Regions from separate parts of the Homo sapiens genome. Here all the other regions are linked to region 4. The links come from fine-mapping of genetic effects on gene expression. A gene starts in region 4. Each other region holds a variant in brackets. All regions are shown on one strand. Distances are from middle to middle.

Region 1 (5,000 bases), 100 kb before region 4:
TATTGGCCAGGCACGGTGGCTCACGCTCATAATCCCAGCACTTTGGGAGGCTGAGGTGGGTAGATCACCTGAGGTCAGGAGTTTGAGACCAGACTGGCCAACATGGTGAAACCCCGTCTCGACTAAAAATACAAAATTTAGCTGGGCGTGGTGGTGGGTGCCTGTAATCCCAGCTATTTGGGAGGCTGGGGCAGAATTGCTTGAACCGGGAAGGCGGAGGTTGCAGTGAGCCAAGATCACACCATAGCACTCTACACGCCAGCCTGGGTACTCCGTCTCAAAAAAACAAAACAAAACAAAACCAAAAAAAGAATATAGTATATGTAATATGTATAGCATACAAAATATGTGTTAACTGACTATGTTATTGATAGGTCAACAGCAGACTATCTGTAGTCAAGTTTTGGGACAGTCAAAAGTTACATTTGAATTTTCAAATGTTAAGGGTGGCGGGGGGACAGCATCACAAATCCCTGAGTTGTTCAAGTATCAACTGTAAGGGTGTGTGTGTGTGTGTGTGACTGTAGGGGTGTGTGTCTGTGTCAGAGACAGAGAGAGAAGAGCAGCTAAAATCGAAGACCCATCACAAAAACACAGTTGATTAGATCATTGGCCTTTGGTGAGCGGCTCAACCTTCAGTCCCTCTCCACCCCTTTTAGAGGTCAAGGGGGTAGGCTGAAAGTTCCAACTCTCTAAACACATGGTTGGTTTCCCTGGGCAATCAGCCCCTAAACAGAGGCTATCCAGGAGCTCCCCCGGCCATTGGTTACCTCATTCACATACAAAAAGACACATCACTTTAAGATTCCAAGCTGTGTGCCAAGAAATGGGGGCAGAAGCCAAATATATATTTCTTATTACATCCAGAAATGGAAAGATAAGTGACAAAACAAATAGAGCAAAAGCTTAATTATAGAATCCAGGTGATGGGTATACAAAAATTTTCAAAATAAAATGAAGATGGATCTGTTCTGCTTTGACCCTGGAGGATGAGCTTTGCATCTTCTCGATATGGGTTAGATATTAATGAATCTGCAAATGCTGACATGAGTGTGAATGACAGATAAATGTGCCTGCCACACAGCTAGAGCTCACCTTCTATGTTAAAGCACTGGAATTGGTCAGAGTACAACAAGCTCTGTTCAAGGACTTTACATTCTAGTAAAAAGACCAACACATTAAAAATAACCAAACAACAAGGCAGAATATGGTAAATGCCATAAAATAAATATAAAGTGTTGTAATTATTCCAAATAAAAGATCATGGGAGTTGCAGGGAGCACTAAGACAGCGTGAACTGTTCTAAGCACCTTGGAAGCAAAAAAGCATAGAGTGTTTAAACAGTAATGAATCTTGGAATATAGGGAAGTTTTGGGAAAGATAGTAGACTGCAATCAAAATGGAGCTAGACATGAGCAGGTAAGGCAAAGACCAAATTCTTAGACTTAAAATAACTTATGGTAGAAACACTGTAGACATTTTTTCTCTCATTCAAAAGGCAATAAACAAACAACTAAAGACTGTTGATTAGGAAAAAAACCAATGTATTCATTGCTCAGTGAATTTTGAGAAAAGTAATTTTGTATTCAATGTCAATTACTGGCTTGGGAAAAGAATTTCTAAGATGCAAAACATATAAAAAGGCTAAATCTAAAGAAAAATATTCATAATGAACACAGGATGAAAGGCAATTAAATACATAATAAAATAGGCTTTAAAGTTCTAAATGCTGAGAAAATGGGTACAAATATTGTGCAATATGATAAAATTTCATTTGGCTTTTGATATTGTCGTGTCTGAGAATAATAAAAATTATTTAATAAAAGCAAGGAGGAGTAGGCTTAATTTGCACATTTCCCAAGTCATGTCCAAAACATCCATCATAATGAAACAGATCACAGTTTAAGATGGCAATTCAGCTCCCTAAACGATATCTGTCACTTAGAAAGTCCCTTAAGTTAAAAAAAAAAAAAAAAAGAAGTTAAAAAGGCAAACTTCATTTTTTT[T/A]AATTAAGTATTAAAACTTTCCATTGGTTATTGGGGAACAGGTGATGTTTGGTTACATGAGTAAGTTCTATGGTGGTGATCTGTGAGATTTTGGTGTACTCATCACCTGAGCAGGCAGTATACACTGCACCCAATATGTGGTCTTTTTTATCCCTCACCCCCCTCCCACTCTTTTCCCCTGAGTCTCCAAAGTCCACTGTGTCTTTCTTATGCCTTTGCACCCCACATAGCTTAGCTCCCACATATGAGTGAGAACATACGATGTTTGGATTTCCATTCCTGAGTTAGTGACTTCACTTAGAATAACAGTCTCCAATCTCACCCCGCTCATTCCAAATGCCACTAATTTGTTCCTTTTTATGGCTAAGTAGTAATCTATTGTATATATACATACCACAGTTTCTTTATCCACTCGTTGACTGATGGACATTTGGGTTGGTCCCATGATTTCACAGTTGCAAGTTGTGCTGCTATAAATATATGTGTACAAGTATCTTTTTCATATAATGACTTCTTTTCCTCTGGGTAGATACCCAGTAGTGGGATTGCTGGATCAAATGGTAGTTCTACTTTTAGTTCTTTAAGGAATCTCCACACCGTTTTCCATAATGGCTGTACTAGTTTACATTCCCACCTGCAGTGTAGAAGTGTTCCCTCTTCACCACATCCATGCCAAACATCTACTGTTTTTTGATTTTTTTGATTACGGCCATTCTTGCAGGAGTAAGGTGGTACTGCATTGTGGTTTTGATTTGCATTTCTCTGATCATTAGTGATGTTGAGCATTTTTTCATATATTTTTTGGCCATTTGTATGTCTTCTTTTTAGAATTGTCTATTCATGTCCTTAGCCCACTTTTTGATGTGATTGTTTTTTTTCTTGCTGATTTGATTGAGTTCGTTATAGATTCTGGGTATTAGTCCTTTGTCAGATGTACAGATTGTAAAGATCTTCTCCCACTCTGTGGGTTGTCTGTTCACTTTGCTGACTGTTCCTTTTGCTGTGTAAAAGCTCTTTAGTTTAATTAAGTCTCAGCTATTTATCTTTGTCTTTATTGCATTTGCTTTTGGGTTCTTGGTCATGAAATCCTTGCCTAAGCCAATGTCTAGAAGGGTTTTTCCTAAGTTGTCTTCTACAATTTTTATAGTTTCAGGTCGTAGATGTAAGTAAGTCCTTAATCCATCTTGAGTTGATTTTTGTATAAGGTGGGAGATGAGGATCCAGTTTCATTCTCCTACATTGGCAGCACCATTTGTTGAATAGGGTGTCCTTTCCCCACTTTATGTTTTTGTTTGCTTTGTCGAAGATCAGTTGGCTGTAAGTATTTGGGTTAATTTCTGGGTTCTCTATTCTGTTCCATTGATCTATGTGCTTGTTTTTATGCCAGTACCATGATGTTTTTGGTGACTATGGCCTTACAGTATAGTTTGAAATCAGGTAATGTGATGCCTCCAGACTTTTCTTTTTGCTTAAAAAGGCAAAATTCTTATGTAAACACTGAATTAATTTTTATATACAGCTATTTCTTACAAAAGAAATATTTGAGAATTATCCAAAGAAAAATTTTAAACACAATAACTTCAAATAAATCTTTTTACAATTTCACAGATGAGGTAGTCCAGTCTTCATGAAATAATTTAATATTATCAGAAAAGTGCAATGTCCTGACTGTACAAAAGGTCACATTTTAGATCTGACTAAGGCTAAAAGAAAGTAATTAACTGGCAACAGCCAGTTCTCGAAGTGAAAAAAAGTCTTACATTGGTTTGAGAAACCTGCACGGCGCGAGATCCACCCAGTTACTCTCCAACAGGAGAGAAATTTGTCAGCAGGAATGACTAAGCGGGAAGCAGCTTAGCTATTTCAAGACCCACCCCCTCCACTTCCTTCCCAGCTCATCTACCACCAAAGAGGTCAGAGACAATTCAATATATAGGTCGCATTATCTTCTGAAGATACAGAAGTTATGTCTCAGAACATAGAAGTTTTAACTGTTACTGGGTCCAATGAGTTGAGTTCTCAATTCAGGGAGGCCTCACCACCTAAGAACAATTTTTGGAGAATGGGGAGGAATCCTAGCAAAGGTCTCCATGTCTAAGGATGGCTGTGGGTTACAATTCTAAAGGTCTTTTTATTTGCTTATTCAAATATAATGACATTTAAAAATTCCTGGCAAATTAGAAGTATTAAGTTACTAACTTAACATTTTCATATAGACCTTTGTATTATTTTATGTACCAGAATCCTCAAAAGCACTCTGGAGTTATTGGCCTTTTTTTATAAAAATAGTGAAGCAGAGAGATTAAAGGAGTTAACTGTAAGAAATACAATAAACATTCATAGCCTAGATTTCAAATTCACTCCTTATCATACTGCTGCTACAAACTCAAGATAATTATTAAAATCCAAAATAGAAATGAAGCCCTGACTGAACTAAATCCTTAGCAAAGATAAATGAACTTGCTTGGTTTTGAAGAGTAGTGTAAAGAAACTGGTTTGGAGGGGTCTGGAAGGCAGGTCATCTGATTATGATTCCTAACTGCCATGAGACAATGCATGAGGGTGTGTGTGTGTGTGTGTGTGTGTGTGTGTGTGTGTGTGTGTGTGTGTGTGTGTGTGGTGTCAAGTCTAATACTGTACTTTAAGTTATTCAAGTCATTCCTCTAGTGAAATTTGAAACGTGGATTATTTTTCCATATAGCTTCAGGGATGCCACTAAGATAGAAATAAATAGGTCAGATCAGCCATCTGCCCCATGCTGGGAAAAGCATTATTATTCTGTAAGCTACTTATGCTTTGGTTGGTTAAAGAGCATTTTATGGTTGAAATGGGACATTTTCAAATTATCCTGCAGAGGCGGCAAGTTCTTCCTTAGTTTCTTTTGACAGATGATCCAGTGGACCAGGCACATTCACTCTACTATCCCATTTCTTTCAATATTAAAATCCTGTATCGTGTATACACACACAGGACCTAGAAGGACACATCAAACTG
Region 2 (7,833 bases), 350 kb after region 4:
TAATCATTTCTCCCAATTGAAATCCTGAAACACATCTCCAGGTCTCTGATTTCTACCAGTGATGATGGGAGTGTGGTGTGCAGCATTGGTCCTGGGCCCTATAGTCACTTTATTTGTTTGGTAGAAATTCAGAATTTCAGGCCCCTCCCAGGCCTATTGAATCAGAACCTACATTGTAACTAGATCCCCAAGTGACTCACATGTACTTTAAAGATCTGTGCCCTGAGGTGGAGGACAAATGATGGCTGAGCAGAGAGAAGATCTGGGCTCTGGTCCCGGATTTGGCACTAGTTTGGCTGTGTAAACTCAGACAAGTTGCTTAACCTCTCTGGACCTTAGTGTCTTCATTCATGGAACACAGAAGTTGGATTCTTACAGTAGTGATTAGTGAACACATAAATATTTGTTATATGCATCTGGATTTGAACAACCCAGACCTACTTAACTCCTAAATTAGAAAACTCTCCTTTGATCATTTACTAGCTTTGTAACTTTGATCAGATGACTTTCAGTTTTCTCATGAGGGGTTATTGTGAAGAATAAGAAAAACAGCATTTACAAAGTGGCTGGCTCAGGGTAGACTCTCTTTAAATGGTAGTTGTTATTTTTTGTTTTCCTAAAATCTAAGCTTCTGATAAGACTGTACATTAGAATACATCCTCACGAAAAGAACTGGATCTGGATATCCTTTTTGTTACTGGAAGAATCCTTGTGTCTGGAGTTGAAAAGCATGTAGACTCTTAGGTGAAAGAATGTATTTGACTCCTGATTCCTTTTTATTTAGATGATTTTTAGCTTGGAGATTTCCTACAAGTCCAGTCTGCATCTACTCAGCACCTAAATCTTGTGTCTTAGGATAGAGCTATCAGTTACAAGGAAAAACATCAGGAAAAACATCTGCAAACAGGATACATCAATATGGTTTTCATGGTTAAGCAAGCTAAGCTTTGATCTTTGGAAAACAATGGTGACTGAAGTTCAGAGCTTGAGGTTTTCTGTGCAGGCTGGATTTTCCCAGTTAACAGAGGCACGCGACAGTTCTGAATCTATAAAGTCTTTGTTGGATATTTTTTGTTGTTCTTTGGTCCCAGCACTCCATCAGATTTACATGTGGGAGATATAATTAGCCATAGACTGATTGCAAAGTATCAGCCATAATTTAAAAATATGAATTAACATAAAATGGCAAGCATTAAAAGTTAATGTTAACTTGATGCTCATTTATTTTTGCATCCAAATGAGCCTTATTAAGTTACTCAGTCCATCTAAACATCAGGGTTTTTTTTCTCATATGCCAAGTTGTGTTAACAATTTCTTATTCTAAATGCTGATAACACTTTTGAAATGCGCAGGTCCAGTCTGCTGTTGATAATCAATTTTCAGCTTCTTCTGTGACCTGGTTTAAACTGACATCACTATACCGTTTGGCATCTTAAAGTCCTGAGTACTTTTTAAAGGGCTTTCTAATGGAAATTATATTTTGACTGTCAAGGCCCTGTGGTTTCCTTCACTGTCAGCATGATCAATAACTTTGGGCAGGTGGATGGAGTGCAGATGGGGATGGAATGTATGGAAATATAGCAGGCCTGTTAGATGTGGGCTTAAATAAGCAAATCAAGCCAATTGGCTTAGAATTATGATGGTTGGCTTTCTAATGCATATTCAGGGAAGGCTGAAAAAAATGTATGAAATTTAATTGTACCATAAAGCTGTCACCAGAAAATATATACTGAATATCAAGCAGGGTAACATGTCTTCTGGAGAGTTAATCTGTGAAAGCTAAAAAAATTCAAAGAATGTTATAGTTGAATAAGCAATAGGAAGAAATAGGTGGTGCTAGGGAACAGTTTTCAGAACAACGAACAAATTGCACAAACTCAAATTTAATGAATGAAGCACAATTGATGGCTTATTGTCATTAGCAATTTCCCTATTGAATATGTAGAAAAATTTGGGAAAAAAGAGTGTAAAAAGTGAGGCAATTTTAACATTTTCTATGCCAAAAATTTAAGACAATGTCTCCACAATATTTTAGATTATCATTAATGTTGTAATACTAGATGCTTTAGTATCAATGAGTGGAGTTTTGCTACTTTATAGTGAAAATCAGTGTTTCTGTAAGCCAGACTGAAAATCCCTGATACTTTATCTAGTAGGGAGATTGCTTCTCAAACTTCAATGTGCGTATGAATCACCTGCGGATCTTAAGGTATAGATTTTTTTGGTATTTTTTTATGGAGGTAAAATTCACATAACATAAAATTAATCATTAACCATTTTAAAGTGCACAACTCAGTGGCATTTAATATATTTACAGTGTTGTGCAACCATCACCTCTATTTAGTTCCAAGACATTTTTTCCTTCAAGGAATCTCTGCATCCATCAAGCAGTCACTCCTCATTCCTCCCTTGCCCTCAGCTCCTGACCACCACCCGTCTGCTTTCTGTTGCCATGGATTTGCCTGGTCTTGATGCTTCAGATAAATAAAGCCATACAGTACTTGACCTTTCATATTCTGGCTTCTTTCACTAAAATGTGGATTGTGATTCTGAAAGTTTGGGGACAGAGGCTGATTTTCTTGCATTTTTAACTCTCTCTCAGATGATGCTGATGCTGCTGGTGTATGGATCTTGGATGAGGCTGCATCTCCTGGGTGGAGGTGCTGCAGCCCAGTGAGCATCAGGGAAGACTGGAGCACTGATTCTCTGACTTCCTGTTGAACCACTGATAGGATCAAGCGGACTTGTTGGCTTATTGGTGCTCAGAGATATTGAGGATCCCCAGTAGATCCTTTTCACAGAATTGTGTAAAACTTCAGAACATGGGGGGAGGGCAGCCAAGATGGCCAAATAGGAATAGCTCCGGTCTACAGCTCCCAGCGTGAGCGACGCAGAAGATGGGTGATTTCTGCATTTCCATCTGAGGTACAAGGTTCATCTCACTAGGGAGTGCCAGACAGTGGGCACAGGACAGTGGGTGCAGCGCACCGTGTGCGAGCCGAAGCAGGGTGAGGCATTGCCTCACTCGGGAAGTGCAAGGGGTCAGGGAGTTCCCTTTCCTAGTCAAAGAAAGGGGTGACAGACAGCACCTGGAAAATCGGGTCACTCCCACCCCAATACTGCGCTTTTCGGATGGGCTTAAAAAACAGCGCACCAGGAGATTATATCCCGCACCTGGCTTGGAGGGTCCTACGCCCACGGAGTCTCGCTGATTGCTAGCACAGCAGTCTGAGATCAAACTGCAAGGCGGCAGTGAGGCTGGGGAAGGGGCACCCGCCATTGCCGAGGCTCGCTTAGGTAAACAAAGCAGCCGGGAAGCTCGAACTTGGTGGAGCCCACCACAGCTCAAGAAGGCCTGCCTGCCTCTTTAGGCTCCACCTCTGGGGGCAGGGCACAGACAAACAAAAAGACAGCAGTAACCTCTGCAGACTTAAATGTCCCTGTCTGACAGCTTTGAAGAGAGCAGTGTTTCTCCCAGTATGCAGCTGGAGATCTGAGAACGGGCAGACTGCCTCCTCAAGTGGGTCCTTGACCCCTGAACCCCGAGCAGCCTAACTGGGAGGCACCCCCAGTAGGGGCAGACTGACACCTCACACGGCCGGGTACTCCTCTGAGACAAAACTTCCAGAGGAACGATCAGACAGCAGCATTCGCGGTTCATGAAAATCCACTGTTCTGCAGCCACCGCTGCTGGTACCCAGGCAAACAGGGTCTGGAGTGGACTTCTAGCAAACTCCAACAGACCTGCAGCTGAGGGTCCTGTCTGGTAGAAGGAAAACTAACAAACAGAAAGGGCATCCACACCAAAAACCCATCTGTATGTCACCATCATAAAAGACCAAAGGTAGCTAAAAACATAAAGATGGGAAAAAAAAAACAGAGCAGAAAAACTGGAAACTCTAAAAAGCAGAGCACCTCTCCTCCTCCAAAGGAACGCAGTTCCTCACCAGCAATGGAGCAAAGCTGGATGGAGAATGACTTTGACGAGTTGAGAGAAGAAGGCTTCAGATGATCAAACTACTCCGAGCTATGGGCGGAAATTCAAACCAAAGGCAAAGAAGTTGAAAACTTTGAAAAAAAATTTAGACGAATGTGTAACTAGAATAACCAATACAGAGAAGTGCTTAAAGGAGCTGATGGAGCTGAAAGCCAAGGCTTGAGAACTA[C/T]GTGAAGAATGCAGAAGCCTCAGGAGCCGATGCGATCAACTGGAAGAAAGGGTATCAGTGATGGAAGATCAAATGAATGAAATGAAGTGAGAAGGGAAGTTTAGAGAAAAAAGAATAAAAAGAAACAAACAAAGCCTCCAAGAAATATGGGACTATGTGAAAAGACCAAATCTACGTCTGATTGATGTACCTGAAAGTGACGGGGAGACCAAGTTTTCCAACCAAGTTGGAAAACACTCTGCAGGATGTTATCCAGGAGAACTTCCCCAATCTAGCAAGGCAGGCCAACATTCAGATTCAGGAAATACAGAGAACGCCACAAAGATACTCCTCGAGAAGAGCAACTCCAAGACACATAATTGTCAGATTCACCAAAGTTGAAATGAAGGAAAAAATGTTAAGGGCAGCCAGAGAGAAAGGTCGGGTTACCCACAAAGGGAAGCCCATCAGACTAACAGTGGATCTCTCGGCAGAAACTCTACAAGCCAGAAGAGAGTGGGGGCCAATATTCAACATTCTTAAAGAAAAGAATTTTCAACCCAGAATTTCATATCCAGCCAAACTAAGCTTCATAACTGAAGGAGAAATAAAATACTTTACAGACAGGCAAATGCTGAGAGATTTTGTCACCACCAGGCCTGCCCTAAAAGAGCTCCTGAAGGAAGCACTAAACATGGAAAGGAACAACCGGTACCAGCTGCTGCAAAATAATGCCAAAATGTAAAGACCATCGAGACTAGGAAGAAACTGCATCAACTAACGAGCAAAAGAAACAGGTAACATCATAATGACTGGATCAAATTCACACATAACAATATTAACTTTAAATGTAAATGGACTAAATGCTCCAATTAAAAGACACAGACTGGCAAATTGGATAAAGAGTCAAGACTCATCAGTGTGCTGTATTCAGGAAACCCATCTCACGTGCAGAGACACACATAGGCTCAAAATAAAAGGATGGAGGAAGATCTACCAAGCAAATGGAAAACAAAAAAAGGCAGGGGTTGCAATCCTAGTCTCTGATAAAACAGACTTTAAACCAACAAAGATCAAAAGAGACAAAGAAGGCCATTACATAATGGTAAAGGGATCAATTCAACAAGAAGAGCTAACTATCCTAAATATATATGCACCCAATACAGGAGCACCCAGATTCATAAAGCAAGTCCTGAGTGACCTACAAAGAGACTTAGACTTCCACACAATAATAATGGGAGACTTCAACACCCCACTGTCAACATTAGACAGATCAACGAGACTGAAAGTTAACAAGGATACCCAAGAATTGAACTCAGCTCTGCACCAAGTGGACCTAATAGACATCTACAGAACTCTCCACCCCAAATCAACAGAATATACATTTTGTTCAGCACCACACCACACCTATTCCAAAATTGACCACATAGTTGGAAGTAAAGCTCTCCTTAGCAAATGTAAAAGAACAGAAATTATAACAAACTATCTCTCAGACCACAGTGCAATCAAACTAGAACTCAGGATTAAGAAACTCACTCAAAACTGCTCAACTACATGGAAACTGAACAACCTGCTCCTAAATGACTACTGGGTACATATTGAAATGAAGGCAGAAATAAAGATGTTCTTTGAAACCAATGAGAACAAAGACACAACATACCAGAATCTCTGGGACACATTCAAAGCAATATGTAGAGGGAAATTTATACCACTAAATGCCCACAAGAGAAAGCAGGAAAGATCCAAAATTGATACCCTAACATCACAATTAAAAGAACTAGAAAAGCAAGAGCAAACACATTCAAAAGCTAGCAGAAGGCAAAAAATAACTAAAATCAGAGCAGAACTGAAGGAAATAGAGACACAAAAAACCCTTCAAAAAATTAATGAATCCAGGAGCTGGTTTTTTGAAAGGATCAACAAAATTGATAGACCGCTAGCAAGACTAATAAAGAAAAAAGAGAGAAGAATCAAATAGACACAATAAAAAAATGATAAAGGGGATATCACCACCAATCCCACAGAAATACAAACTACCATCAGAGAATATTACAAACACCTCTACGCAAATAAACTAGAAAATCTGGAAGAAATGGATAAATTCTTCGACACATACACCCTCCCAAGACTAAACCAGGAAGAAGTTGAATCTCAGAATACACCAATAACAGGCTCTGAAATTGTGGCAACAATCAATAGCTTACTAACCAAAAAGAGTCCAGGACCAGATGGATTCACAGTCAAATTCTACCAGAGGTACAAGGAGGAACCGGTACCATTCCTTCTGAAACTATTCCAATCAATAGAAAAAGAGGGAGTCCTCTCTAACTCATTTTATGAGGCCAGCATCATCCTGATACTAAAGCTGGGCAGAGACACAACCAAAAAAGAGAATTTTAGACCAATATCCTTGATGAACATAGATGCAAAAATCCTCAATAAAATACTGGCAAACCGAATCCAGCAGCACATCAAAAAGCTTATCTACCATGTTCAAGTGGGCTTCATCCCTGGGATGCAAGGCTGGTTCAATATACACAAATCAATAAATGTAATCCAGCATATAAACAGAACCAAAGACAAAAACCACATGATTATCTCAATAGATGCAGAAAAGGCCTTTGACAAAATTCAACAACTCTTCATGCTAAAAAGTCTCAATAAATTAGGTATTGATGGGTCATATCTCAAAATAATAAGGGCTATCTATGACAAACCCACAGCCAATATCATACTGAATGGGCAAAAACTGGAAGCATTCCCTTTGAAAACTGGCACAAGACAGGGATGCCCTCTCTCACCACTCCTATTCAACATAGTGTTGGAAGTTCTGGCCAGGGCAATCAGGCAGGAGAAGGAAATAAAGGGTATTCAATTAGGAAAAGAGGAAGTCAAATTGTCCCTGTTTGTAGATGACATGATTATATATCTAGAAAACCCCGTTGTCTCAGCCCAAAATCTCCTTAAGCTGATAAGCAACTTCAGCAAAGTCTCAGGATACAAAATCAATGTACAAAAATCACAAGCATTCTTATACACCAATAACAGACAAACAGAGGGCCAAATCATGAGTGAACTCCCATTCACAATTGCTTCCAAGAGAACAAAATACCTAGGAATCCAACTTACAAGGGACGTGAAGGACCTCTTCAAGGAGAACTACAAACCACTGCTCAATGAAATAAAAAAGGATACAAACAAATGGAAGAACATTCCATGCTCATGGGTAGGAAGAATCAATATCATGAAAATGGCCATACTGCCCAGGGTAATTTATAGATTCAATGCCATCCCCATCAAGCTACCAATGACTTTCTTCACAGAATTGGAAAAAACTACTTTAAAGTTCATATGGAACCAAAAAAGAGCCCACTTCGCCAAGTCAATCCTAAGCCAAAAGAACAAAGCTGGAGGCATCACGCTACCTGACTTCAAACTATGCTACAAGGCTACAGTAACCAAAACAGCATGGTACTGGTACCAAAACAGAGATATAGATCAATGGAACAGAACAGAGCCCTCAGAAATAACGCCGCATATCTACAACTATCTGATCTTTGACAAACCTGAGAAAAACAAGCAATGGGGAAAGGATTCCCTATTTAATAAATGGTGCTGGGAAAACTGGCTCACCATATGTAGAAAGCTGAAACTGGATCCCTTCCTTACACCTTATACGAAAATTAAT
Region 3 (7,833 bases), 140 kb before region 4:
CAGCCACAGCCCAATGAGATGGATATTCGAGCCAGTGAGCACTGGATATCTGATAACATGGTTAAAAGTAAGACCGAGTTAAAGCAAAATAACCAGAGCCTTGCAAGTAAAAAATACCAGTCTGATATGTACTGGGCACAGTCACAAGATGGACTGGGCGATTCTGCTTATGGCAGCCACCCAGGCCCTGCAAGCAGTAGAAGGCTTCAGGAATTGGAACTGGACCATGGGGCTTCAGGGTATAATCATGATGAAACACAGTGGTATGAAGATTCCCTGGAGTGTCTGTCAGACCTGAAACCAGAGCAAAGTGTTCGGGATTCGATGGATTCTTTGGCATTGTCCAATATCACAGGTACGTAATCTAGGGATTATGGGGTATTTGAAAAAAGGAGCTACTAAAAAGTGTATTCAAAAAATTGCAATTCAAGCCAGGCGCAGTGGCTCATGCCTATAATTCCAGCACTATGGGAGGCTGAGGTGGGCAGATCATTTGAGGTCAGGAGTTCGAGACCAGCCCAGGCAACATGGCGAAACCGCGGCTCTACTAAAAATACAAAAATTAGCTGGGCATGGGCCTGTGATCCCAGCTACTCGGGAGGCTGAGGCAAGAGAATTGCTTGAACCCAGGAGGCAGAGGTTGTAGTGAGCCAAGATTGCGCCACTGCACTCCAGCCTGGGCAACAGAGCAAGACTCCATCTCAAAAAAAAAAAAAATTGCAATTCAGCATGAGTAGGAGTTGTGTGTTATTCAAAACCATGGATCAAGGGAAGGAAGGAACCTCACTTAAATACCAAACACTAGCAAAACAAACACATGTGTGAGGTGAGTGCATGTGCATAAAATATATTTACAGTGCAGTCTTTAGGGATAGGTTTTATTACCCTGTTTTGAAGAGAAGGAAATTGATTGGAGGAAGGAGTGTACAACTGGATTGTGTCTGAAAGATATTGTACGCTTGAATTATTCTGTATGTATTCTAAGATACCAAAATTGGCCCACACACTTTACAAGCTCTTTTTTTTTTTGAGGTGGAGTTTCGCCCTTGTCGCCCAGGATGGAGTGCAATGGCGCAGTCTCACCTCACTGCAACCTCCATCTCCCGGGTTCAAGTGATTCTTCTGCCTCTGCCTCCCCAGTAGCTGGGATTACAGGTGCATACCACCATACCTGGCTAATTTTTGTATTTTTAGTAGAGATGGGGTTTCGCCATATTGGCCAGGCTGGTCTCGAACTCCTGACCTCAGGTGATCCACCCGCCTCAGCCTCCCAAAGTGCTGGGATTATAGGCATGAGCCACCACGCCTGGCCACAAGCTCATTTTTTTTTTTAAACATCTTCCTGAATTTCCCTGTGACAGTAGCTCAAAAACAGCTGAATACTTTTTATTTAGATTCTAAAATATTACTGTAATGTTTTCTTTTTTTTCCTAGTTTTTTGTTTTGTTTTGAGATGGAGTTTCACTCTTGTCACCCAGGTTGGGGTGCAATGACGCGATATCAGCTCACTATAACCTCTGCCTCTCAGGTTCCTGAGTTTAAGCGATTCTCCTGCCTCAGCCTCATGAGTAGCTGGGATTATAGGCGCCTGCCACCACGCCCAGCTAATTTTTGTGAGACAGGCTGGTCTCAAACTCCTGACCTCAGGTGATCCACCTGCCTTGGCCTCCCAAAGTGCTGGGATTACAGGTGTGAGCCACTGCCCCTGGCCTACTTTAATGTTTTCAAAGCACAGTCATACCAGTTATCCACATTTTATCTTTAAAATGACCCTGAGCTATATAGAGTGGATGATATGATTGCATTTCACAAATGAGGAAACTTGAATTACCAAAAGGCTAAATGCCAAACATTACATAGGTTCTAAAGGCAAGATTAGGCCTAGAACCTAGGACATTATGCAAATTATTTGCAACAAGTCTTTGGATTATAGAAATGTTGCTGTTGCATGGCTAGTTTTATAGTCAAACTACTGACATCCAGCCCTTTGATGAAGGTAATGCTTCTGTAATGTAGACAGGAAAGGCTTAGTAGCTGCTTCCTGCCAGGAATAACTTGTGCCAGACACTGCAGTGACAAGGAAGGGTACGGCAAAGCTACCCCCCCGGCTTCTGTGGACTTGTCAAAGATAAGGCCGGCAATAAAGGGGAGTTGAGGAAGAATGGTGGGTGAGACTGAGTAAGCACCTTTTGTCTGCCAGGCCCAGTGCTAGGAGTTTTAAATTTAATATCAGAAATAGACATAATTTGGCCAGGTGTGGTAGCTCACACCTGCAGTCCCAGCACTTTGGGAGGCCCAAAGCAGGTGGATCACCTGAAGTCAGGAGTTCGAGACCAGCCTGGCCAACATAGCAAAACCCTGTCTCTACTAAAAATACGAAAATTAGCCAGGCATGGTGGCATGTGCCTGTAATTTCAGCTACTCGGGAGGCTGAGGCAGGAGAATCACTTGAACCTGGGAGGCGGAGGTTGCAGTGAGCCGAGATCATACCACTGCACTCCAGCCTGAGTGACAGAGCAAGACTCTGTCTCAAAAAAAATAAATAAAAGAATTAAACATAACTTGGTACACATTTAAGTGTTAGGGGCTGACATTCCTTGACAATAATAAGCTGAAAAATAGGCCCCCTTTAAAAAGTATGAAGTTATATAGGGCCGGGCGCGGTGGCTCACACCTGTAATCCCAGCACTTTGGGAGACCGAGGCGGGCAGATCACGAGGTCAGGAGATCAAGACCATCCTGGCTAACACAGTGAAACCCCGTCTCTACTAAAAATACAACAAATTAGCCAGGCGTGGTGGCGCATGCCTGTAATCCCAGCTACTCGGGAGGCTGAGGTGAGAGAATGGCATGAACCCAGGAGGCGGAGCTTGCAGTGAGCTGAGATGGTGCCACTGCACTCCAGCCTGGGCGACAGAGCGAGACTCCATCTCAAAAAAAAATAAGTACGAAGTTATGTAGTCTCCAGTTGACAACAGTATCACTTTGTCTATAGGGCTATATGTATTTATCTTAACATGCCTGGGTCCTATTATATCAAAAGAGATCAATATCTGTTTTGTTAAATGTTTCAATAGAAGATTAATCTGGAAGTGGCATATTTTACACGTTGAAGGCAGAAAAGACTGGATGAAGATCTAGGTCAGGGGTTGAGCAAACCTTTTCTATAATGGGCTCGATAGCCCTTTTTAGGCCTACGGTCTCTGGTGTGACTACTTAGCTCTGCCACTGTAGAAAGCAGCTATAAACAATATGTAAACAAATAGGTGTGGCTGTTCCAATAAAACTTGATACACAAACAAGCTGTTGAGCTGTAGTTTGCTGACCACTAGCCTCAGTATAAGATGAGGAAGACTAGCTCATGATGGAGACCAAGGAGGGACTGATGTGAAAGATCTCCAAATGAAGCAGTGTGGCTTTAATGAATTGAGGAGCAGAAGCTTCTACATCTTATGTTAATGAATGAACAGGCTGCTGTGAAGAGCTCTTAAAGTTTTGCTGCTCATGCCATGTGCCGTAACTACTTAACTAATCTTTGACTCCAGGCTTATAAGAGAACCTGTGCCCCAGGCCAGGTGCAGTGGCTCATACCTGTAAACCCAGCACTGTGGGAGGCCGAGGTGGGTGGATCACCTGAGGTCGGGAGTTCGAGACCAGCCTGACCAACATGGAGAAACCCCGTCTTTACTAAAAATACAAAAGTAGCCAGGTGTGGTGGCACATGCCTGTAATCCCAGCTACTCAGGAGGTTGAGGCAGGAAAACTGCTTGAACCTGGGAGGTGGAGATTGTGGTGTGCCGAGATAGCGCCATTGCACTCCAGCCCGGGCAACTAGAGCAAAACTCTGTCTCAAAACAAAACAAAAAAACAAAACAAAAAAGGCTGTGCCCACCCCTTATAACAATAACTGCATTTATACCACTTCTCAATTGGCATAGATACATGTTGGCTTTCCCTATGGGTTTTAATCAAATATTGAGATTGGAAATTTTCTTTGAAATATTTCCTTTCAGTAGCTTACTTTTAAGTACTGTCGAATATTAGGATGATTGAGAAGCACATCTTGTTTTGGCCTCTCTTCTAGGGGCTTCGGTGGATGGAGAAAACAAGCCAAGGCCATCATTGTATTCTCTGCAAAATTTTGAGGAGATGGAAACAGAAGATTGTGAGAAGATGAGCAATATGGGAACTTTGAACTCTTCCATGCTGCACAGGAGTGCAGAGTCCTTAAAGAGTCTAAGTTCAGAGTTGTGTCCAGAGAAAATCCTGCCTGAAGAGAAGCCAGTACATCTGCCAGTGCTCAGAAGGTCCAAGTCTCAATCCAGACCCCAGCAGGTCAAGTTTTC[T/C]GATGATGTCATTGACAATGGGAACTATGACATTGAAATCCGGCAGCCTCCGATGAGTGAAAGGACTCGGAGACGCGTCTACAATTTTGAAGAGAGGGGATCCAGGTCTCATCACCACCGCCGCCGGAGAAGTAGAAAGTCCCGCTCCGACAATGCCCTGAATCTTGTTACAGAAAGAAAATACTCTCCCAAGGACAGACTGCGGCTGTACACCCCCGATAACTATGAGAAATTTATACAGAATAAAAGTGCCCGGGAGATCCAAGCATACATCCAGAATGCTGATCTCTACGGACAGTACGCCCATGCCACTTCCGATTATGGCCTGCAGAACCCAGGAATGAATCGGTTTCTGGGACTCTACGGCGAGGATGATGATTCCTGGTGTTCTTCCTCCTCCTCCTCTTCCGACTCGGAAGAAGAAGGATATTTTCTTGGACAACCAATCCCTCAACCCCGGCCACAGAGATTTGCCTACTATACAGATGACCTTTCTAGTCCACCATCTGCACTTCCCACCCCTCAGTTTGGTCAGAGGACAACAAAATCCAAGAAGAAAAAGGGACACAAGGGCAAAAATTGTATTATTTCTTAACCAAGTAGTGATGCAGAGCATTTGTTTAAAACTTAGCCATTAACCGTCTGAATCGTTTCCTTTTCTTCCGTAGGAAAGTTGTGAAAATAGTTTAAAGTGCTTTCTTTGCCCATGTAAATGAGAACTCAACTGCTGTTTACAGTGTCAGATTAACATTTGAAAGGTGTGATTTCTCCAATTTACCCTCTTTGGATGGTGCCAGGTGGACGTGACATCTCGTGCCTGTCCGGTGCGGGTGCGTTACAGATGGACGTAGCTGCTTTGGTTTTCCAGTCCTCAAGGGAATACTGAAGATGCTGACTGAAGGGGATTGGATGTTGATTTTAGAAGATGGAGAACTCCAGCCACCTTTGTAAAGCACTAGTGTTTGTCATTTATGTAAGTCAGGTCGGCTCAGGTCTTGATAGTCCGTCTTGGTGTGAGGCATGCCTGTCACGATGACCTAGCTAACACTGTGCATCTTATTGTGAGGCCAGCTTGTCCCCTCGAACCCTCTTTGGCCAGGTAAACATTGTATTGTATCAGCGCCAGCTACAGATTGAAAAAAAAAAACAAAAAACATTGCTATTTATAACTTAGTATTTCATAGACTTAAGTGTATTCCTAATTTAACGGTGCAAATATTAATGTATATACTGTACAGTTCAGATTTTAAAGCTGATATTTTTATATCCCTGAATTGTAAGCCGTTTGTTACGCTGCAGTGCTAGATTTGCCAGGGAACCAGAATTTATGGATGAACTGATTGCTTATATTTTAGTCAGGGTTTATAAATGTAGATGGTCAAATTTACATTGCCTAGTGATGGAAAATTCAACTTTTTTTGATTTTTTTTTCCAATATTAAAAAAGGCTCTGTATGCATGGTGGGGCTATGTAAGTACTCTTTAAAACTATGGCCCTATTAATCTTACAAGTGTTACTTATGGGTCAAGCAATGTAAACTGTATAAATGTAAAAACAACCCCTCCACACACATAACCCCTGGAATATATGGTAAAAACAAGTAGAAGCTGTTTCAGCGAGTGGGTTTTTTCCCCCTGCCTGCGGGGGGTGCCTTTCTCATTTTCAGCAAGGTGATGATTATCTCATGGGAAATGACAAAGATCTGCTTTTGTGGCAGAGGACTTTGTAGATTTGTTATTTTAAGAGAGGTTATTCCTTTTTATTCCTTCCCTCCCACTAATTTGTTGGCCTTTAACAGCAATTTTGAAAACTGGGTCTTCTGGTTATGTTTTTGTTTTAAAATCTTTAAATTAGAGGATGCTGTGCCATTGAGTACTGTAAGTTAATATGAGGTTCTGGTTCAAGGAAAACTTACGTTGGATCTGAACCAATGAGCAGATATTTTGATATGTGCCACTCTTGCATATACATCTCAGTCCTAACTAAAGGTTCTAGTGGCATCCAGGACCTTTAGGGAGGCATTTAATAAACACTTAATAAATAACAAAACTACCTTTCTGAATATAAATCTTTGCAAATGTATCCAGATAACTTCCATTTTGTGCCTGTGTTCAGGCATGATTTATTTTGCAGTTGCCCTACCATTAACAGACCTCCATTTGTCTCGTGTGTCCACACGCCCCACTTGTAGGCCAGAAATAGGGCTTCAGACACAGAGGCTTATTTTTTCCATATAGACTGGAGTGGGGAAAATTTGGCCTTAGGGAGGACAGACACAAGTCCAATGGGTAAACCAGCGAGTAGTAGGTGGACAGCCGTCCCACACAAGGGTTTGTATCTGGGCTACACAGATTCCCTTCAGAAAAGCACCAATGGTGAGAGAGTTCTTCACTCAGTAACTTACATTCCCTGGTCTGGTGCCTTTAAAAAACCATCAGCAATGAAAAGGAAGTGCATACACATGACAAAAAAATTCAAATAGGGCAAAAGTCAGAGACAGCATCTCCTTTCCATTCTTCATCCCAGTCCCCCAGGTCCTCTCCCCAGAAGTAACCACTCTTACCCAGTTTTAGTGTCTCCTTCAGACATTCAAAGCACATTCGTATAAATGTGTCTTTTAAAAGTGGTAGTGACCTATATGTGCTGTGACATGCTTTTTTCCCTTTGTATGTGGACATTTCACGTTAGTGCATATAGGTCTACCCATTCTTTCAGTGACTGCTTAATAGCCTACTCCTAATGATGGAGTTGACTTTCCTCATACATTATGCTACACTGGCACATGTGCACATAAATCGGGAGCAGCGTAGTTACTGGGACAAAGGTTACGTATTTAAGACTGATGGATATTGCCAATTTTCCTCCAAAAGAAATTCTCCTGATTTACATTAATGTAATGTAAATGAGAGTGTTTGTTCCATCACAACCTCTCAATGTATTAGCAGATTTCTTGATTTTGAAGAAATTTTCAGAACCTGTGCTGCCACAAGTGGGCATCCTTTTAGAAAAGACTGTTGCAATATGTTGCTTATAAAGGATGGATAATAAATAGTAAACAGGTGATACTTAGCCTGAAGAAATGCAGGTATAAGGTGAAGGTACTGCCCTCACTTTTCAAGTACATTCTCAAAAGATAGGGGTAACATAGCCTGCCAAAGGCTTAAGGAAATGCAGATATTTATTCACAATAATAATGTGACTTTCTTTTCCTTTTTTTTTTTTTTTTGAGATGGAGTTTCGCTCCTGTTGCCCAGGCTGGAGCGCAACGGCACAATCTCAGTTCACTGCAACCTCTGCCTCCCGGGTTCAAGCAATTCTCCTGTCTCAGCCTCCGGAGTAGCTGAGATTACAGGTGCCTGCCACCATGCTCGGCTAATTTTTTATATTTTTAGTAGAGACAGTGTTTCACCAAGTTGGCCAGGCTGGTCTCGAACTCCTGACCTTCAGGTGATCCACCTGCCTCAGCCTCCCAAAGTGCAGGGGATTA
Region 4 (5,000 bases):
CCAAAAGCATATAATTATGCCTGTTTCCTTACTGTGCCACAAACAGACTAACACATACTACCACGGAGCTGTTTATTTTCCAAACGGGATATCTTTTTCCATTCTCTCATTCAACATCCAACGGTCCATCAAGGCCCAACTCAAAACCTATTATTCTCCACAAAGCCCATTATATAAACCCTACAAGACTTAAAACAGATTCCAAACTAGTGACTGATAGGCCATATGAGACTTGTGTTTGACCCACTTTTTTTTTTTTAATAAAATTCTATTCCACTGACAACATTTAAAAACTGGGAGAGGATGCTTTTTAAAAAATGGTATTTCCAACTTTTTTTGAAAAAATTAGATGTTCTGGCAAAACTGGGATCATATTCTCACATAGCCACAATCAGCTGTAGCTGAGTGGCAGGTGACCCCTTCTAAGGGTGAAGTATTCATTAACGTTAACTGCCTGATCTCTGCAGCATACCTTCAGCACCTGCAATCATTCAAGAAATAACTGACTGTCTTATGTGCCAAGAACTGTATTAGCTACTGGAGTTACAAAGATAAACGAGACAAACACAGTCCCTCACCGACAGTCTCGCTTAGTAGGGATGGCAAAGAAGCAATTAAGATACATGTGATAAATGCCGTGAGGGAAGTGCAGGACAGCTAAGAGTACATAGCAAAAATACCTAACTCTATGGAAGTTAGGGTATACCCCTCAAGTAAAGTGACAGCTAAACTCAGATCTTTAATAGAAGTTATCCAGAAAAAGATAGGAGGAAACAGGGAGCTCAAATGTCCCAGAGAGAGAAAAGAGCCTTTGTGAAGATACTGAGGGAAGAAAGTATTCTGAGGAATTGAAATCCGTTCAACATGGCTACAGCCATGCCCAACCTTTAAATGCAGGGTCAGAGAAAGGGCTCAACTGAAATGGCTGGCAGGAAAATCTACGTGTTATCAATAGTTAAGGTTAGGAGATGAAGGAGAATTTCACTAAAGAAGTTGAATATGTAAAATAGTTTAAGCAGGAAATAGAGGTTTCAGAAAGCACAGATGGGGTGTTGAGGGGTTAAATGGGGAAGAAACGAAGAAGCAGTGATAGCCTAAGTCGAAAGAAAGCACAAAGCAGCATGGAAATGAGACTATAGCACAGAAGACCACAGAAGCTTACATCTTGGGCGGTAACCAAGGATAACAGAGATGTAAAGCATGGTAAGTTTGGCTGGCCACAAGTATGCCTAGAGAATTAGTGCCAGCGGTCTCCTGTCGGCCACGGAGGCATTCAGGCCTCTCAAAATTCAGCTGCGCCCTGGATGGATTGTACTTCCGTCTCTATAGAAGACATCGGCTTCACTCTGGATTGATTGTGCAGGCTCCAGGAGAGGCTGTGGGTTCCAGGCTGCTGGAACGCAGGCTCCCAGGGAGTGGTTAGAGGCCTGGTCTGTATGTGCTGGTAGGCAGAAGTATAAATTACCTTGCATTACGTTCTGATTTTTCTGTAGGAATGGTGGGCATGTTATGGCCTCTTAGAGAAAAAGCAGTGCGTAGCCATTATAGATTTACAGGAAGAGAAAAGGTGCCAAGAAGATCAACACTTGTCCATACCCATACTAAAGATGAGTCATTCTGTGAATCCAACTCTCCCCAAGTTGACCTCGTCTCCCCAACTAGACTGAGATCTTCACCAGAAAACAAAACAAAACAAAACATAAAAGGTCTGTTTATTTTGTAGTTCCCAAAGTGCCTAATAGCTGGGTACCGTGAACACCTTCAGTAAAATTACCGACTTCCTGACTCCTCTCGGGTCACTGAAGTTACCTAGCTCAGTCGTCTTCTTGCATATTAAGGCGCTACAGAGAGGCGAACCCCTATCTTAGACTCAATACTTCCCTTTATTCCAAACTCCACTGCGTCTCTCCACCCTCAACCGCATGGGCAGAATTGTCACACAATTCAAAGGCAGGAGAATCCAGGACCCGACACAGAAAACTCCCGCCCACTCCCCCCCGTTTAGCAGCCCGCACACGCTCTGCATCCATCTCTGGGAAAGGTAAAAAGCGCTCACCGACTCTGGCCCTCCGGGAGACCCCGTAAATGCAGCCGTCCGCTCGCCGCCGTTATCCCAGGTAGGTACTTCCGGCGCGCGCAATGACGTTAGCGAAGCGCTCGCCTCTGGGCCCGCCTTCGGGGCCCGGATCTCAAACAGTCGGGAAGAAGCACCGTGGCTGCTATTATCTGCTCTCCGCGCCTGACCCCTCCCAGGACTCGTGATGCCAAGGCCGCTGCGAGCGGCTACGAAGAGTCGGGGTTGAGCCCCAGCTGAGCCGAGGGCTCGCACTCTTCTGGTCTCCCAGGCCCAACCCACCTGAAGGTAAACGCCTCCTCAGCTGCGGCCTTCTCTCCTGCGGGGCCCCCTCCCCAGACTCGGCTGCCAAAACGCTCTGCCCCTCTCTCCCGCCACCCTTTTTATTCCAGGACCTTAACCTCTGCCTGCCTTCGCGGCTCTCAGCAGAACGTGTAACGCATAGTTTCAAATGAGAAACTTAAAAAGCGACGTATCTATGTTGAGTTCCTGAAGTTTTCTAAATAATTCCCCCATAACACCAAACATGAGGCAGTTTTCTCATTCCTTCACGAATTGGCATGCCATAGAGTCAGTATTTTTCCATTTGTGATGGTTGATCTTCCCATCTCAAATACACACCGCACGCTCTTTTTAAATCAGAAATTTGAATTTGGTTGAGCCTGATATTTTCACGGTAATTTGCTGACTTTGTAAGATAAGATGTGAAAATTACTGATTACATTTGTAAACTTTATATACATATACACACATACCTACAGGTCTGTCTCTTCGAGGCACCAAGCCTATTTATATAATGTATCATTTCATAATTTGGCAATAAGCAAAATTAGCGTTTCGAAAGAAGTTTATATTGTCGATACATAAAGCTTAAATTTACTCCTTAACATCATACTAAAAGGGGAAAAGAAAATTTTCCTCTTAACACACCACTCCAGAGAAAAAAAATATTAAGACAAGCAAAAAAGGTACCCAGCCATAGTACAGGCATGCACAGCATAACAACTTTTTGATTAACAACAAACCACATATACCACAGTGGTCTCCTAAGAGTGTAATACATTGTACCATATTTTTAGTGTACGTTTTCTGTGTTTAGCTATGTAAATATTTACCATTGTGTTTCAACTGTCTACATTATTCACTACATTAACATGCTGTACAGGTTGTAGCCTAGGAGCAATAGGCTAGACCATCTAGGTTTGTCTCAGTACACCCTGTGATGTCTGCACTGTGAAATCACGTAACACTCAGAACATACCTCCTTCATTAAGCATAGCATGACTGTGTATTAGCAAAAATCAGTGGCTAAGGTTCTGTCTGAGTCCCCATGCTCTTTCTGACCTGGGTGAGCAAGGTGCAGGTAATGTACATATACAGTACATATTCAATAGAGCATTTTTTTTGCTCATGGTCTGAGTGGAAGTTAGGAGTAGCCTCAGGGTTTTTCCTTCATCTGTTCAAAACCCGTCTCCCTACCCATACAATCTGGCACTGAAAGTGTTGGTATAAAGAATACTTGAAAGAAGAAGAACCAAAAAAGAATTTTTTTTAAGTGGTGACTGGGAAAAAGGAATTCCTTAATTCAGCCTGCTGGAGTCATTGTTCCTAACTTCCTAAAATGTAAGGAAGGTGTACACATCTGGCATAATTAAATCGGTGATTGTTAATACTTTATTGGTTTTTGTTTTTTGTTTTTTTCCAAATAATACCCAGACTGGTCTGATGTATTGGTTTTATTTGGAATTAATAATACTTGGTTTAGGCCAGGTGTGGTGATTCATGCCTGTAATCCCAGCACTTTGGGAGGCTGAGGCAGGTGGATCATTTGAGGTCAGGAGTTCAAGACCAGCCTGACCAACATGGTGAAACACTGTCTCTACTAAAAATACAAAATTAGCCAGGCATGGTAGTGGATGCCTATAATCCCAGCTACTCGGGAGGCTGAGGCAGGATAATTGCTTGAACCTGGGAAGCAGAGGTTGCAGTGAGCCGAGATCACGCCATTGCACCCCAGCCTGGGCAACAAGAGGGAAACTCCGTCTCAAACAACAAAAAAAGAATCCTGGTTTAGACTGATTGCTGATAAGTTTGTTTTCACTTTTAGAAATGAGTGGTGGATTGGCTCCAAGTAAGAGCACAGTGTATGTATCCAACTTGCCTTTTTCCCTGACAAACAATGACTTGTACCGGGTAAGTAAATCTTATCGAGTGACTGCTATTTGAGATACAGATAACCTTAAGCAAATAGTTCTCCCTGGCAAATTCTTTTTTCCTTTTTTTTTTTTTCTTTTTTTGAGACAGTCTAATTCTGTCACTGAGGCACGAGGCTGTAGTGCAGTGGCACTATCATGGCTCACTGCAGCCTCCCCGCCCCCTCAGGTGATCCTCCCACCTCATCCTCCCAAGTAGCTGGGAATACAGGTGTGTGCCACCATGCCTCTACAAGCTACCTGGGAGACTGAGGTTGGAAGATTGCTTGAGCCTAGGAGGTCGAGGCGACAGTGAGCCAAGGTCACACCACTGCACTCCAGCCTGGGTGACAGAATGAGACCCTGTCTCAAAAAAAAAAAAGAAAAAAAAATAGAAGCTATATTTATTGAACATTTAAGTCAAATTATGTGTTAGATACTAAGGAGATGCTAAGATGTTAGGTGCTAAGGAGAAAAAATAACGCAGGAAAGGTGGGCTATTGAACGTTAAGTTGGGAATGGAAGTGAAATTTTACATAGGGCGGTCAGAAATGCCATTATTGAGAAGGTGACTTTTGAATAAAGACCTGAAACGAGTAAGAGGCACCTGTGCAAATTCTAGAGGACAAACATTTCAGAAAAAGAGGGGTAATCTTAGGTAAGCCCACTCGAGGTGCCTTATACGACCTATTTACATCATGGTAAGGACTCTGGCTTTCACTCTGCATGAAACA

The links. PIP is the estimated chance that this variant, and not a neighbour inherited with it, causes the effect. A credible set is the group of variants that fine-mapping cannot tell apart.
Region 1: its variant is the best candidate, but not a certain one, in a credible set for the expression of PPHLN1 in whole blood (TOPMed, PIP 0.87).
Region 2: its variant is the best candidate, but not a certain one, in a credible set for the expression of PPHLN1 in whole blood (TOPMed, PIP 0.68).
Region 3: its variant is the best candidate, but not a certain one, in a credible set for the expression of PPHLN1 in whole blood (GTEx, PIP 0.68).

The regions. Positions count from the first base shown.
Region 1 is chr12:42,425,798-42,430,797 of GRCh38, reverse strand. All of the region lies in intron 9 of PPHLN1 (periphilin 1), which reads right to left. Among named protein-coding and RNA genes, the nearest start is that of PPHLN1, 100 kb to the right of the region's middle. The variant T/A (reference allele first, on the strand shown) is at 2,007.
Region 2 is chr12:41,974,330-41,982,162 of GRCh38, reverse strand. No RefSeq gene overlaps it. Among named protein-coding and RNA genes, the nearest start is that of GXYLT1, 170 kb to the left of the region's middle. The variant C/T (reference allele first, on the strand shown) is at 4,167.
Region 3 is chr12:42,456,917-42,464,749 of GRCh38, reverse strand. It overlaps PRICKLE1 (prickle planar cell polarity protein 1), which reads left to right. Exons shown (of 8, transcript NM_153026.3): 7 at 1-355; 8 at 4,085-7,833. The coding sequence ends at 4,941. Among named protein-coding and RNA genes, the nearest start is that of PRICKLE1, 130 kb to the left of the region's middle. The variant T/C (reference allele first, on the strand shown) is at 4,347.
Region 4 is chr12:42,323,286-42,328,285 of GRCh38, reverse strand. PPHLN1 (periphilin 1) reads right to left here and starts at 2,119. Exons shown (of 10, transcript NM_201439.2): 1 at 2,057-2,119. ZCRB1 (zinc finger CCHC-type and RNA binding motif containing 1) reads left to right here and starts at 2,192. Exons shown (of 8, transcript NM_033114.4): 1 at 2,192-2,362; 2 at 4,182-4,267. The coding sequence starts at 4,184. MIR7851 (microRNA 7851) reads left to right here and starts at 4,427; the gene lies at 4,427-4,586. RefSeq lists an enhancer at 2,447-2,496.